Linked DNA regions of Homo sapiens: region 1 is linked to region 2. Evidence: fine-mapped expression QTL. A gene starts in region 2. The other region holds a variant in brackets. All regions are shown on one strand. Distances are between the middles of the regions. Region 1 overlaps LINC02207 (long intergenic non-protein coding RNA 2207). Region 2 holds the start of LINC02207 (long intergenic non-protein coding RNA 2207).

Evidence for each region. PIP is the estimated chance that this variant, and not a neighbour inherited with it, causes the effect.
Region 1: its variant is the best candidate, but not a certain one, in a credible set for the expression of LINC02207 in whole blood (TOPMed, PIP 0.77).

Annotation. Positions count from the first base shown.
Region 1 is chr15:93,870,062-93,874,466 of GRCh38, reverse strand. All of the region lies in intron 3 of LINC02207 (long intergenic non-protein coding RNA 2207), which reads right to left. Among named protein-coding and RNA genes, the nearest start is that of LINC02207, 16 kb to the right of the region's middle. The variant A/T (reference allele first, on the strand shown) is at 2,193.
Region 2 is chr15:93,853,964-93,858,368 of GRCh38, reverse strand. LINC02207 (long intergenic non-protein coding RNA 2207) reads right to left here and starts at 1,809. Exons shown (of 4, transcript NR_120321.1): 1 at 1,773-1,809.

The DNA.
Region 1 (4,405 bases), 16 kb before region 2:
GCCTATTTTACAGATGCGGAAATTGAACAATAGGAAGATTCAACACAATGTAGTCAGGATAAGAATGAATGAGAAGAGGCCCAGTCCTTAGGAGGAATTGTAACCAAGTTTCATCTGTAGATCTCCCAGTGATCCTCCAGCCTTGAATTTGTTTTAAGATCTATCTGAGTTAGTACTTCCCTACGAGTTTCTCAGAAGCAAATCCAAATCTTCCCTTAAGTAAGGTATTTATTTAAAGATATTCAAATTATTTCTACAAATAACTATATAGAGTTAAAGATTTCCAGGTAACAGAGAAACGAAAGACATCATGAGCAAGAGCCAACAAAAAAGAGAAGCTGACCCACAAAATATTTAAATTTTGTGTGATCAGTCTTTAAAATAAGTGATTGTACTATGTGCAGAGAAACAAAGGTAAGCTTGAAAATGTAACAGCAAACAAAAAATGATAAAATATAATATAGCATATTATAAACTAAAGAATGAAACTAAACTTCTAAGCCTAAGGTACAATAATCAAAATCAATTACTCAAAGAGTAGGTTTTACATTAGATTACATATAGCCATAAGGAAAATTTTAAACTAGAAGATAACTCAGAAGAAATCATCTAGAATATAGCATAAAAAGGACACAAAGGTGGAAAAATTAGAATAGTATGAAAAGATATAGTAGATTCCATGAGATCTAGCCTTTACTTGAAAAATTGTGGTCCCAGAAGAACAGAAAGTTAAAAATGAGGCAATATTTGAAGAGATAACAGCTCAGAGTTTTCCTTAACAAGGCAAAAGCTTCAACCTACAGATTCAAGAAACTCAGTGGTACCCAACAGGATAAATAAAAATAGATATTCAGCTAAATACATCAGAGTGAAACTGCTGAATATCAAGTCAAAGAGAAAATCTTAAAAGCAGCAGAAAATTTTTTTAAAAAGACATTACTTTTATTGAAACCATAGAATTACAACTGCTGTCTCAAAAGCAACAATAGCTGGAAAACAATGGAATGACATTTCCAAGGAAACAAAAGAAAATAATTGCTAAATTACTAGATCTAGGAAAATGCAGCTTAAAAATGAAGTTGAAACAAAGACATTTTCAGACAAACAATAATACAAGACTGCAGCAGACTGTACTAGACAATTAAGACAGGAGGCTTTGACATTAAAAAAAGTAATCCTGTTAAAAGACATGGGTTGATGGAAGAGATAAAGAGCAAAGGAAGATAAATTGGGATGGGAATAATTCCAAATGCAAATCAAACAATAATGTTTTATTTATATATGATTTTCTTTTCTATTTCTCTGATTACTAATAAGAATGAACATTTTTTGTGTGTGTGTTCATCACCATTCATGATGCTCCTTTAAGAAATGCCTACTCCTGACCTTTGCCTTCTTTTCTATTTGGTCATTTGTCTTTTCGTGATTTATCTGTTAGTTATTTATTTCATATAAATTATATCATTTTTAGTTATTTTTGCTGTGTTTTCATCTTAAAAGTTTTTATTTTTTATGAAGTTAAATGTATCAGTTTCCCTTTATAAATATAACTTTTACTCTAATGTTTAAGGAAACTTTTATATCTCAAAACTAAAAAGTAAAACTCAATGATGGTTTGATTTGCAGCATTAGAAAGGGGGGGTTGGAGATGGACTCTCAGTTGACAGCTTGTATAAGTGGATGGATGGTAAATCTACCCACTGAGAAAAAGGACACTACAACAGTACTAGGTTTTAGGGAAGGGGAGGAAGATTACAAATTTATTCTTGGCCATATTCAGTTTGAAATGCTTTTGAGTCTTCTAAGATTAATGCATCAAGAGGGAAAATGTTTACATGCATCTGGTGCCTCTACAAGGTTTCAGTGATGGAGATGTTATTTATTAATTATTTGTATGACAGGGGAAAATAAAGCCATGAGTGTAAATGAGCTCACCTAAAATGAGCGGAACAGTTGTTCTTAACTAAGGGTGATTCAAATGTCCCACGGAACATTTGATGATGTGTGTAGATATTTTTTTGTTGTCACAACTTGGAGGGGTGAGAGGGGAGTGCCTCTATCAGATAGAGGTCAGGGATTCTGCTAAACAACCTGCAGTACACAGGACAGCTACCATAATGAACCCCACTTCATAACAAGAAATTGTCCATTCCACAACATCGGTAGTGCCACAGTTGAAAAAGAGAGAACTC[A/T]AGAATCATCTGGGTGTTAGGTTTCTGTGCTCCAGGTTGGCTAACTGAGAGGTGAGAGAGCAGAGAGAAGAGGGCACAGGCCGTGTTTTGAACAGCATTTGGTGGCTGTGTAGAAGACGGCAAATTTTCTAACGACATTGAGGAGGAGCAATTACTAATTTAGGAGGAAAACCAGGAGTGTTAAGTCACGGAAACCAGAAACCAAAGAGAGAAAGTGAGCAGGGATGTCAAATTCTAGTGAGTATATTCAAGTTAGGAATAAAAAGTATCAATCAGACAGAGATCATGTAAATGAAGGTTTTGATGGCCTTACCAAGAGCTGTTTCAGTGGCGTGATAAGGGCAAGAAGGGAGCAAAGTCAGATCAGAAGGTCTTGAGGATTGAGTGGGAGATACAGAAATGAAATTAGCAAGAATAAGTAGCTCTTTCAAGATATTTGACTGTGAATGAAAGAAGAAACAGAGGTGTGAAGGCTTGGTAGAATAGTGAGATTTCATTTCTTTTCTTTTTTTTTTTTTTTTTTTAAGGAGAGATTTAAGAATACTTAAAAGCCAATGGACAAAAATAACAAATGCTGGCAAGGATGCAGAGAAAAGGGAACTCTTGTACACTGTTGTGTAATGTAAATCAGTACAGCCATTGGAAAACCATATAGAGTTTCTTCAAGAAATGAAAAAATAGAACTACCACACAGTCCAGTAATCCCATCACTGGGAATTGATCCAAAGGAAAGGAAATCAGTACATCACAGGGATGCCTGCACTTCCTTGTTTATTGCAGCACTATTCACAATAGTCAAGATAGGGAATCAGCCTGTGTCCATCCATGGATGAATAGATAAAGAAAATGTGAGTCGTACGCACAATGGAATACAATTCATCCATTAAAAAGATGAAATCTTCTTATTTGCAGCAACATAGATGGAACTGGAGGTCACTATGTTAAGTGAAATAAGCCAGGCACAGAAAGACAAATATTACATGTCCTTACTCATAATGTAGGAGCTAAAAAGTTGATCTCATGGAGGTAGAGAGGAAAATGATAGTTACCAGAGGCTGTGGTAGGAGAGATGGATGTGGTGAGAGGGATGAAGCAAGGTTTGTTAATGGGTACAAAAATACAATTTGATGGAAGGGATAGTTCTAGTGTTCAATAGCACAGTAGGGTGACTCTAATTAACAACATATCTTATATTTTAAAATAGCTAGAAGAGAAGACTTGAAATGTTCTTAACAAAGAAATGGTAAATGTTTGAGGTGATGGCTATCCTAAATACTCCAATTGATCATTACACATTGTATGCATGTATCAAAACACTGCATGTACCCCATAATATGTACAAATATTATGTATTGATACAAATCATAAAAATAAAAAAAATTAAATAGAAGCAGGGCTACCCAGGTGCCACCATGCTTGAGAGGCCATCTGTAGGTACCGTGGCCAGTGACCCCAGCTGAGGCCATCCCCATTAAGACATCAGCCATGTGAGCAGAGCCATGGCAGACCTCCCAGCCTGACCATCTGCCCGCTGAATTCCATGGAGTGACCTTAGTCAAAAGAGGTGGAAAAGAAGACTTGGCCAACCAAAAGGAGCTTGAATTTCTGACCACAGAATTCCTGACCATAAAATTATGAGCTCTAATAAAATGTTGTTTTTAAAGGCAAACAAACAATGACAAAGGCCAATGGAGTAGATCCAAATGAGGGAGAATGAGAGAAATGTACTAGAGAGATCCTGACAGTGCATGGATGTGGAGGATGGGAGAATTCAAGGGCCAGAAGGAAAAGATGACTTTAGATAGGAGGAGAAATGGCTCTGCCAGTGTAATAGGGAGAGAGAAGATGGAATGTGTTATGTGTAGGTGGATGTGTGTGTAGGTTTAGGATCGATACTTCCAATCTAACAGCTTCCACTTTTAATCTAAAGTAGGAGGCAAGTTCAACTGCTGAGAATTGGGAAAGAAGTGTGGAATGAGACTGTACAGAGTGGAGATAGTTTTTAATATGCCTTGTGTTTGGTAGAATAGTCAGTGATAAAAGAAAGGTAACAAGATAACACGATCCTCCATCTCTGTCTAATTTCAGTCACCATCTCTCCCTCACTCTCTCCCATTTCCTCTCTCCCTTCTTTCTCCCTCCTTCCCTTTTCCCTCTCCCTCTCTGTCTCACCTCTCAACCAACCTGGAGCACAAATACCTAACAGCCAGGTG
Region 2 (4,405 bases):
AATCACCTGATGCACTTCTCAGAATGTATCCCCATCATTAAGCTAGAATAATATATATATATATGGATATATATATATATATATCCCATTATCTTTTGTCTCTACGCTCATTCAACTTGAACTGTTTCAAACTTTGGAGACTTACAATTATGCTGATTCCTTTATTTAATAAAAGAAAAAATTAAGCTCTCATGGCTCGTGGCTTTTCTTATTGCCACTGCATGGACTCTGAACCTCTGTCTCAGCCAGGCACGAGGAAGCAGAGAGGTGGTGAACTGAGAGCTGCAGGGTCTCACTGTTTTGTTCTAGATCAGCACTTTTTAAACTTTAGTGGGTGCAAATCACATGAGGATGTCATTAAAGTAAAGATTACAATATAGTATGTCTGGAATGAATCTTAAGATTCTGCCTTTTCAACAAGTTCCCAGCATATATGGTGTTGTTCTTCTGCAGACCCCGCTTTAAGAAAAAAAATTAGAAAGCTCTAGATCTTAATTCAAAACTCTTATTTTTTTCAACTTGGGGGTGGGAATGGTGGTAAGACAATTTGGCAAGATTTGGCAATAGGGACTGCTAGTATAATAGACTATTTCTCTCATCTATTCCCCTCTTCACCCCTCTTGACACACCCTGCCAGAATGCATGTGACCTTCCAGAAAGGAATTATGCTCAGCAAAATGCCCTGAGGTATTAAATAATGAACTAAAATATGACTCTTTTTTTTTTTTTCTGAGACAGAGTCTGGCCCTGTTGCCAGGCTGGAGTGCAGTGGCACCAGGACCAGGTTGGAGTGCAGTGGCGTGATCTCGGCTCACTGCAAACTCCGACTCCCTGGTTCAAGCAATTCTCCTGCCTCAGCCTCCCAAGTAGCTGAGATTACAGACACATGCCACCACGCCCAGCTAATTTTTGTATTTTTAGTACAGACGGGGTTTCACCGTGTTGGCCAGAATTGTCTCTATCTCCTGACCTCGTGATCCTCCCGCCTCGACCTCCCAATAAAATATGACTCTTAACAAATATAAAATGAATGTATGTAAAGATTTTCTTTAAGTAATGAGTGAACCAGTAAGATGTTACGATCAGTATGAGGGAGGATTCAAACAACACACACATCCGTGCAATCAGAAATGCTGAAATAAACAAACACAGAAGATGTCAATAGTTACTGGGCAATAATACATTTGATTCTACTGGACAAAGTTTATTTGCATTCCTAGGAAAAAGTCATTTGCATTCACATAAGCTTTCTACACATTACAGATTTATAAAATGGTTCAAAAGAAGTGCAGACCCCTATAGAATTAGGTAAAATGGAAAGGCAGCTAAAGAGGACACCTAGTAATTATTTTATCCATTTCAAAGTCTTTCCACAATTTTTCCTGACAGAGATAACACTTTAGGAAGAATATCCTAAGTTAATTGAGAAGCCATATGAGAAATAATATAACTATTGCCCCCAAACTAGCCCTGTCCTCTTATCCCCTCCTAACCACACACTAGCCGGCATCAGGAACCAGGACATAATCAGACAGCTCCTTTCCCGTCTCTCCTTTCCCAATCATACAATGCACATGCCACCTGTTCACCATTTTTTTCCACCCCTCACCATCCCATACCCACATAGATGTTCTCTTTCCCATTCTCCTAAACTTCCTCAAATATTCTTTCTAGGAAGGCTTATCTCAAATATCATCTCCTCATTGAATAACAATAATGATGATAATAAAAGCCACTAATTGATTCCTTAGCTCTTTAGCTCACCACCTCACCTTCACAACTATCCTCAGAGGTAAGCTGTTATCATTGCAATTTTACAGCTGGGGAAACCAGAGCTGAGAGAGCCCGAGCCTTTTTCATAAGGTCACAAAACTATTATGAGGTGGTAAATGCTTTACTACCATGAAATAAAAAGATTTCCTCTCTCTTAGAGCTTTAGCACTCTGTCCATGTGCTCACTTAGCTTTTTTATCACATACCACGTATGGCTGTTTGTCTTCTAGCTCTCCCATTTCTTCTTTATCATCTTTCTTTGCATAACCACAACCTCCCTGCCTCAAAGTTACCTGTGCCTCTGCTCCTCATGAGAAAGCAGATAGCATGTCCTATCCATGCATGGGTCCATATACAGGGTAAGCTTTTACTAAATAGAACTGAAAGGTGAGTTTTATGACAATATAAACACAAATATATTTATGTCATTATATTCTCTTTTGTACATTACCTGTAGCAAATTATCATGTAGGTATTCAATAATATTTTCTTCAAATTTGATCTCCAAGGGAAATTGGAAAAGAAAATCAGAATTTCTAAAACACAATTCCACAGGAAGAAACACTTTTTAAAAATATTTAATTTTAAAATTAAAGACAGGTTTAGCTGCAGGCAAAGTAATCAGCATGACGAATGAGGATGGGTGATTTGGTCTCCTACTCCAACTTTGCCGTCTGAGTTCCCTGGGCTCTTAGAGGCTCAGAGTATCCCAGGCTGGACGGAGTCTGATAAACTCCGTGAATGTGTGTGCACTGTAAGCTAACAATGGAAGCACTGGCGTGGTGTCTTAGAAAGTATTCCTAATATCAGTACCTCTTACCCTCAAAGGACTTGTTCAGAGCCAAACGCCAGGGACTTAGGTAGAGGAAACATTTGAGAGGAGGAGAGTTTTTATTAAGTTTCCAAACTCACTCTATGTATGTCAGGTAATTTGACCTCATGTGAGAGGCAGCTGGCTGTGGGAGAACTGAAGTTTGGGCTGGGCTTGAATATGTTTCCTTCATACGGTGTGACCTTCCCCAAGTTATGCAAATCTTTGAGTCCCAATCTTCATGCTTAAATGAAAATGATGCCTGCCTGTTACAATTGCTTAAGGAATTAAATGGAGGTTTTCTCTATTTGCACGTGTGTGCATGTCACAATACACACAGAGAGAAACCACCAGGCAATGAAGGCTGATTCCATCCCTCCCCTGGTTAGTTCATATGATTTCTGAGCCTGCCAGAATTCCTTCCAGTGAAATGAAACTAAGGGAGAGAAACATCCCAAGGCCTGGATGCCTGGAAAGATTTTACCTAATGAATTTTCAGTTTATTTGTTATAAAAGTGAATTTGGTCTGATTGAAACAAAGTATTCACAGCTTTTCTGTGCTTTAAAATGTCATTACAAAAATGCAATTCTTTTCAAATATCTATTTTTAAACTTTATTTTCTAACTTCAATCTCAGGCCTTGATAAAAAAAAAAAAAAAAAGATGCTTAGTAATGTTTTGCCTTAGGAAATATTTTAAAAAGTTACTACCATAGGTTTATTTGACATCCAAGGACACATATATAAATAATTCAGAAGGTGGAAGTTATGGCAGAGGTCCATTTGTGATTAATAAGCCTAGAGCCTTATCAATAACATAATTTGAAGACTTTCAGCAATCTTCTACCGAATGCCTCCTATTCTCAAAGTAAACACATTGATCATGTAAATAGTGCTCTTTTTCTTTTCTAACTTGAGTGTATTTTTCCTCGCATTCAATGCTTTGAAGAGTAATACCTTCAGCCATGTAACAGGAGTTACTTTCTCCTCCTCTCCCTCTCTTTATCACCCTCTCTATCTCAGCAGGTATCTACTGCAGCCCCTTATATCTTTAACGTATTTATAGAATTTAACCCATTTTCACTATCAGTTTGGCCACTTATTCTTTCATTGATGAATATTTATTGAATCTATACCATGTTCAGCCAGTCTCTAAGATAGTTGGAATCCATCAGGAAATGAAACCCAAACGCCTGCTACCATGGAGTCTACATTTCAGCAGAGGACAACAGGACAATATACTTAATAATCGAGTAAATTATTTTACTATGGGAGAAGGTGGTAAGTGCTGTGAGGGAATAAAGAAAAAGTGGAGCTGGATAAGGAAGAATAGGAGTGCTGAAGTAGGTGGCGATTCAAATATGGTGGTCAATGTGACATTTGAACAAAGACTTACAGAAGGTAACAGAGTTCACTATACAGATAGGTAGGGAAAAACATTCCAGGCTAAAGCAACAGCTATTTCAAAGGCCTGAGGCAAGAATTTCCTTGCATGTTGGAGGCGGGGAGAGGGTGCCACCATGTCTGGAGCCAAGCGACAATTGGAGAGAGTCCTGGGAGATAAAACAGAGAGGTCAATGGGCCAGACTATGTAGGGATTTGTGGGCCATTGTATGGACCACATCTTTTGCTGTAATTAAAATGGGAACACTGGAAAGTTTTGTAATGGGCAGTGACATGAACTGACTCTGGCTTAGATTTCAAGAGGACCACTGGGGCTGCTGCCTTAAGAATAGCCTGTAGTGACACAAGGTCCTAAGCAGGAATCCAAATTAAGAGTCTGGTGCAATACTGCAGGCAACAGTCAAGGTGCCTAGGATCA